2 linked regions of the Homo sapiens genome follow. The protein of the gene in region 1 interacts with the protein of each later gene in a pairwise test. Each region holds a gene or a part of one and is shown in the gene's direction. Other genes may lie near its edges. The genes, in order: ECE1 and MYOC.

What was found.
Region 2: the proteins of ECE1 (region 1) and MYOC interact in a two-hybrid assay, tested with the Homo sapiens proteins (one study listed by BioGRID).

Annotation. Positions count from the first base shown.
Region 1 is NC_000001.11:21,252,192-21,256,004, reverse strand, and holds part of ECE1 (endothelin-converting enzyme 1), read left to right. Parts: coding exon 1-58; intron 59-3,813. UniProt on the Homo sapiens protein: Converts big endothelin-1 to endothelin-1.
Region 2 is NC_000001.11:171,642,600-171,646,412, reverse strand, and holds part of MYOC (myocilin precursor), read left to right. Parts: intron 1-3,813. UniProt on the Homo sapiens protein: Secreted glycoprotein regulating the activation of different signaling pathways in adjacent cells to control different processes including cell adhesion, cell-matrix adhesion, cytoskeleton organization and cell migration.

The DNA of each region.
Region 1 (3,813 bases):
GGAGAAGCGCCGTGATGAGGAGCTCATCTACCACAAAGTGACGGCAGCCGAGCTGCAGGTAACTTGAGCGCCGGCTGCTAGGGAGGCTGGGATGGCCTCCAGGTTTCAGACAGGGCCCTGGACTGGGGGCTTTTATACTCATTTCATCTAGTCCTTGAAACTATGTGACAAAGGAAGGATGGTTGTTATGCCCAGTCCACAGATGGAAAAACTGATGCTCAGAAAGGTCAAGTTACCTGCTGAAGGGCACACAGCTAGTAAGTGACTCCAAAATAGGCGCCTGGCCGACACCAGGCTGCTTCTCTGTAATTAATAGTGTTTACTTGGAGGCTCGGGGTCATGACCACACCAGCTTACATTGACAGCGCCTTTCCAGTCTCTCCAGCACCAAGCACATCGAACTTGGTTACAGTGAGCACTTAATAAATGCATGGTGTGGATTCTGTCATTACTTTTCCCTTTTCTGAGCCAGATCAAGGTCCGGAGGCTCCTAAGTGGCAGAGGAGCCAGCCGCAGATGGGCTCACTGTACAACAGGGCGTTAGATCTGTGATGCTCTCTGTCACCCATTGGAGAAGCCCAACGTCCAAGGGCTCAGCCTCTGCCAAAGGCTGCCCTCTGGTGGCTGCTTGGTTCTTGAGGGTCCAGAGAGAATAGCTTGCTGGTTCCTTCTTTCCAGAGCATCAGCTGGCATTGCAGAGGGATCAGCAGAATGGCCACCACCGATCTTGCCGTTTCTTGACATCACCCAGGAATGCGTGGCCAGGCCTTGCTTCTCTGCTGAGGAGGGGCTCCCGCAGAGTGTCATCTCCCTCCTTCCTTACCTTGTGACCAGCCGAATTTGACCTGTTGTCCGTTCCTTCTACTTTCAGGAAGAACACTAGGTCCCTGCCCTTTACCCTCCTCCAGCTGACAGGTGTATATGGGTCCGTCTTGGGACCTTGCGCTTCATGTGCTTCCTGGCTAGTGGGGGACACCAGCTAGAAACAACCCTGTCTCATTGCTGAGTGCTTTGGGCAAAAGCAGCGGGCCCTGGGAGCCAGGGGTGGGGAGAAGTCAGGGAAGGTGAGTCTAACGATAGATGAGCATTTCCAGGCCAACTGGGTGTCCCAGGCGGAGATGCAGGCCGTGCTAGGGCCCACGATCAGGGTCAGGGGAGCCTGGCCTCCTGCTGGTGCTGGCTGCCCTTCAGCTCCCAGAGAAACTGGCCTGAGGCTCAGTGGTGCTGCTCAGACCAGGATGGAGATCAACAGCTGCTGTTAGATACCATCTGGCACTCTTTTCCTGCTCTGAGGCCAGGAGGCTGAGGGTGATGTTGTTTGTGCATTATAATTTGGTTTGTTCCAGCCGATTTCTCAGCCTGAGGGGCCCCCGCAGTGCCTCAGCCCCCTACCGTGGCCATGATGCCAACTGTCTGTGCCAGGAATAGCGGAGAAGGCACAGGAGCCCTGAGCACATCAGCCCAGCATGGCCACCAGGTTCCCCCCAGGCATCCTATCACCACTGCTTCTGCTCTCTTCTTCCAAGCAGAGGAAGAAAGGCTTTTCCTGCCTCCCAGCTGCACAGCTGCCAAGGTGGGGGGAGTTTAGCAGACTCAGCAGCTTGTAGTACACAAGCCCTGGGCTTAGATTCAGAGGACTGTAAGCCCCTTGGAGCTCTAAGTGCTGGGATTATAAGCATGAGCCACCACGCCTGGCCAAACAGCCTCTGTGTTCTAAGTACCCAAAGTTCAATTAAGATCTTTAGGAAATATATGGATTCTCTCGAGTTTTTACAGATATTTCTGATTAAATTCTAATGTGAATTTGGCTGCCTTCCTTGTAAAATGGGCTTGGCTCGTTCACTCACCCCAGCTGTGTGCCAGAACACAAATGAGACATAGCCCTTGCCCTCACAAGGGACTGTGGTTCCTCTTTTTTTTTTTTTTTTTTTTTTTTGAGACAAAGTCTTGCTCTGTCGCCCAGGATGGAGTGCAGTGGCATGATCTCAGCTTACTGCAACCTCTGCCTCCCAGGTTCAAGCGATTCTCCTGCCTCAGCCTCCTGAGTAGCTGGAATTACAGGCAGGCACCACCACGCCCGGCTAATTTTTGTATTTTTAGTAGAGTCGGGGTTTCACCATGTTGGTCAGGCTGGTCTCGAACTCCTGACCTCATAATCCACCCGCCTCGGCGTCCCAAAGTGCTGGGATTACAGGCATGAGCCACCGCACCTGGCCTGTGGTTCTTTTTTTTTTTTTAATTTGAGACAGAGTCTCGCGCTCTCGCCCAGGCTGGAGTGCAGTGGCGCCATCTCGGCTCTCTGCAAGCTCCACCTCCTGGGTTCACGCCATTCTCCCACCTCAGCCTCCCGAGTAGCTGGGACTACAGGCACCCGCCACCACGCCCGGCTAATTTTTTTGTATTTTTAGTAGAGACCGGGTTTCACCGTGTTAGCCAGGATGGTCTCGATCTCCTGTCTTCGTGAGTTGCCCGCCTCGGCCTCCCAGAGTGTTGGGATTACAGGCGTGAGCCACCGCGCCCGGCCTGTGGTTCTTAACTTTAAGTCACAGAGTCCTTTGAGAACAGATCAAAAACCATGGACTATCTCCCAGAATAAATGGGTATATATGCATATTTTTAAAATTATGTCTGACATTTAAAGACGTCCTGGCCGGGCATGGTGGCTCAGGCCTGTAATTCCAGCACTTTGGGAGGCCGAGGCAGGTGGATCACCTGAGGTCAGGAGTTCAAGACCAGCCTGACCAATATGGTAAAACCCCGTCTCTACTAAAAATACAAAAATTAGCCGGGTGTGGTGGTGTGCGCCGGTTGTCCCAGCTACTCGGTAGGCTGAGGCAGGAGAATCACTTGAACCCAGGAGGCGGAGGTTGCATTGAGCCAAGATCACACCACTGCACTCCAGCTTGGGTGACAGAGCGAGACTCCGTCTCAAAAAAATAAAATAAAATAAAATAAAATAAAATAAAATAATAAAGAAGTCCTGGCCCCCTGAAGCCTGTGTTCTAAGTAAGAATCTCTTCCTGGCCTGCCACACAGGGTTGTTGGAGAATAAGTTGAGGTAAAGGATGAGAGTTCATTCAGTAAACTCATTTGCACAACCCAGTACAAGCATAACATATTATATTCATCATTATTGTTACTATTCCTTTGTTATTAGCGATGTCACCCAGGAACCCAGCACTAAATCAATTTGATTCATTCTACTCTGGGACAGAGAATGTCTTGTTCCCTGGTGTCTGGAAATGGGGTTTTCTTCCCATACTCCAGGTAACTTAGGGAAAAGCACGCCAGGTTTCACAGTGTGGTTCTAGGCTAGCCCTGCTGGGGTACAGAATGCTTCCAGGCTAGTCCCCAGCAGAGTCTGAACTCAGAGCTGTGAATCAGACACTCTTCCATTACTTCTGGGGGCCTGAGGACCTTCCCCTTCCTTTCTAGGACCCTCACGCCAAAGGCTGTTTGGGCCTGAGCCCCATTTTCTACCCCATTTCTCCAGCTGAGATGAAGCTCAGAAGCATTCTTCTCTTCTCTCCCAGTTTCAAACCTATTTGAATTGGTTGGTTTGTGACCCACAGTACTCCTTGGCTGCAGGTGTGGAAAATGGAGCTCACTGGTGTGCCCCAGAGGGTGTGAGTCACAAGTGGAATGTCCTAGTCAGTTAAAACAGCCGTCTCCATGGAGATGGAGCTAGGCACATGTGTTTAAGATAGGAGTTCACTAAAGCAGCCAGGATGGAAAATGTGAAAATCCTGGTATTCAACACATCTTATCTGACAGTCATGGGAACTTCCCTGCACAGAACACCTGCTTTCCCTA
Region 2 (3,813 bases), about 150 Mb from region 1:
GTTTTCCTCCACATTCACAATGAAATGTTAGTGATTTTAAAACATTCCAGAGAAATTTTAGTGTTGACACATCTTTATTGAGGGCCATTTCATTTATAGTTACTTATGTAATCATCCAAACAATTCAGCTCAGCATACTGGGGCTCAGAGAGGTGGAGTCATTTACCCAAAGTCACACAGCTGGGACATGGCAGAGCTGAACTAGGAGCTATGACTTCCGGCTTAGGTCCAGGCCCCTTTACGAGATTGTTTCCCTGCCTTTGGGTTTTGCATCCTCTATTCTGGGCTTCCACCCGCATGCCAGATGGCTCTATTCCTGGAGTCTGACCATTGCCAGATGCTCCTGGCTGACATGACCTAGAAGAAGCCAGCAGGCTCATAACTTAACCATCGCCCCTGCCAAATGGGAACTGGCCTTGCCGTCATCCTGGAAGCCATTCCCTGACATTTTGTTTTATTGCAGTTCATGTTTATTCCAGCTAATGCACATAAGGAGTGGTTCCTGCAAGGCACAATCTGAAGGGCTCCTTGCTCAGAGCCGTAAGGGCCATGGTGGGATTCAGCAGGGAACTTGGCACCAGCCAGGCACTTTTGCTGCCTCTTCTTTGCCAGTGAGGGTAGAAGAACTGATAAGAGGATTGAGTGCACAGCCCAGGAGCTGAGAGTTTACAAGGCAACCCACTGGGACCTGAGCTCAGCCCCAGGAGTGGGTCACCCCACAAAGTGCTGAGCAGCATCTTTGAGACTCTTCTGAAGCCTCCAGTAGCCATCTGGGTCCAGTCGGGAGATAGAAATCACACAGTGGGTTAAGCTGGGGAAGTTTACTTTAAAGAATTACTAACCGTGATGAAAGAGCAACTATAGATAGACGTGAACTCCATAGGCACCTAGGGCTGAGGGAGGGTGCCGGACAAGCTTGGAAGGGGAAGGTGAGGTTCAGCACATCAGCTTGCAGAGAAGGTGGCTAAGGTGTGCAGGCCTCAGCTGGTCTGCAGCTGCAATAGGCCGCCTCCCAGTGCAGGTGAGGAGGGCAACCTGCAACGTGTGGCAAGGGCATGGTGGGAGTCAGGGCAGGCACAGGCAGGAGGCCTCCAGAGCACTGAGGTCCGTGTGCAGGGACTCTGGGTTCCTTGTTGGGAGGGCTGTGGAAAGGTTATGGCCAGGCTGTGGCTGTGAGGTCACAGAAGAACTTCGCTCTGGGTCCGTGGCTGGGGTAGGACTCCAACAAATGTCCTCACAGTCATACCACCTATGGACGCAGGACAGGAAAACTGCAGACCTTTTTCCTCCCACGATGTCCCTCCAGCGCCCTCTACTGAGATAGTTCAACATCGCGCTCACTTCAAAGCTCTTGTTCTTCAGACAGCATACATGGGAGGGTGCATTCAGCTCTGAGAGGCAATGCGTTTATAACTGACACACCTCCTCAGCACAGGATGGAAGAGTTCGCAGCTGCCATGGCCTCGGAAGACATGGGTTCAAGTCCCAGCGATACCACTTAGCTGTGTGACCTTGGGCATGTTACTTAACCTCTCTGAACCTCGGTTTCCTCATTTGCAAAAGGGGATATTAATGTTCACTTTCAGGACCATTATTTGAAAGTAGTGAGTAGCAAGCACCCAGCACAGTACTGGCTCATAAGAGACACTTAATAAGTAGTAGCGATAGTTCAACTTTATCAGGCGCTATCTGCAGTCCTAAAGCCTTTCTCTATTTCTCTGAAACTTTGAAGGCACCAGATCACATTTAAAAATTACATAAAAATTACTTGAAATGGGCAAAGAGCTATAAATGCCGACAAACCATCTTGTTTCACAAAAAAAAAAAAAAAAAAAGCTGTTTTTTAGAGTTGCAAAGCCAGTACATACTTTAGCTATCCACAAGGAAGTCATCTGTGAAAATGCCTGACTTTTTTGGGTTTCACTTTCTTCCTTCCCTCTATAGCAAAAGGGGCATTTCTTTCTTAATTTTCTCCCCACTGACTGGTAGGTAGGTACCCCTACTTTTCTTAGTATACATCTTTTCTCGGTAAGTTGTTAAATTAAATAACCAGCATAAAATACATCATTTTGTATGTGTAAAGGGGCCAGATGCAGGGGAGGGATGGCTCGCCTGAATTTAATATTTTTTTAAAAACCTAAAAAAAAAAGCCCTAAAAATGTTAACGATCTGTCACAATATAGCCCTTAATATTTTCATAATCTCTTTTTGGTTTTCTTCCACATTCAGAATGAAATGTTAGTGATTTTGAAACATTCCAGAGAAATTTTAGTATTGACACATTTATTAAGGGACCCTCCCATGGCAACTGTGGATGGCATAGCTGAAGTGTAGGGACAAGGTTGGGGCAGTCCTCCAGACTTTGTGTACAGATGGCATGCAGTATTTCTCTCTCCTCACATTGCCTGAAACCAACTCCTTTTTTTTTTTTTTTTTTTTTTTTTGAGACAGAGTCTCTCTGTCACCCAGGCTGGAGTCCAATGGCACAATCTCAGCTCACTGCAACCTTTGCCTCCCAGGTTCAAACGATTCTCCTGACTTAGCCTCCCTAGTTGCTGAGATTACAGGCATGTGCCACTATGCCCGGCTAATTTTTGTATTTTTAGTAGAGACAGGGTTTCAGCATGTTGGTCAGGCTGGTCTCGAACTCCTGACCTCATGATCCACCCACCTCAGCCTCCCAAAGTGCTGGAATTACAGGCGTGAGCCACCATGCCCAGCAACTCTTATATTCTGAGAGTTGAGACAATGAAAGAAAAGAAATTTGAGTTGTCCTGAGGCAGAGTCTGCAGTGATCCAAGAAGAGGTACAGATGAAAGGAAACCAGCTCAATTCAAGGAACTTGCTTAATGCCCTGATTTTGAAAAATTGTCCTGGCAAGACTTTGCCACATCGAATGAGCCTCTGCACATTGCAGGAGGCTGGCAGGGCCAGGGAGCGGTGGGCTGCTCCTAACAGCCTGGGTGTGTGTTCTGGGCCTAAGAGAGAAGGCATGGCAATCGGCGAGGCAGCATCAGAGAGGAAGGTTACAGATGGTTCTGCCACCTGTGTACAGGAAGGCGGTCACTCTCTCTTACCTCTCCCTGGCAGCACAGAAGAACAGGGAACCTCGGGCACCCTGTCCCTCTCCCCCATAGGCAGCACCAAGTCCCTGCCGGAGGTGTGTGTTGCCTGCACAGGGGGAGAAGGGAAGCAGCTGGTACTGGTCTCAGGTCGATCTAAGGAAACTCCATTTGACCTAGTGAATCAGTCCCTGCCCTGGATACCCTCCTAGGCCAATGCAACCTTTAGAATGAAGAACAAAGGGGTTTCCTCACCCCTGCACAACCTCAGATAGGGAGAAGGAGACGCAGGGAATGAAATAAAAGTTTCCAGGACTCTCCAGGAGCCATTCAGATTGTCCAAGAAACTGGTTTCCGCAGCAGCCTGGAATAAACCCATTTTCCTTCTCGGGTATGAGGACTTTGCCAGATTATGATTTCCTTAAGGGCATGGACTGATTGTGTCTTTTTTTTTTTTTTTTTAAACATAGACTAGCCTATTAGACAAACTTGTGTCTTAGACACCTTTTTTTCTTGAGCACCTAGCACAGCCTTGCACTCAATAGGTGCTCCAATGATGTGACTAAAAGGATGGATAAATAGCTCTGTGGATTTGAGGCTAGGAATAATGAAGGCCTGCCATGTCCCGGGGGGTACTCCCAATTGCCCCTGGAGTTTGGAATGCACATTGAGGATGTCCTCAGTTACATATACATTTTGGCTTATGAGTCTTTCTTTTTTTAATTTTTTTTTTTTTTAAGACAGGGTCTCA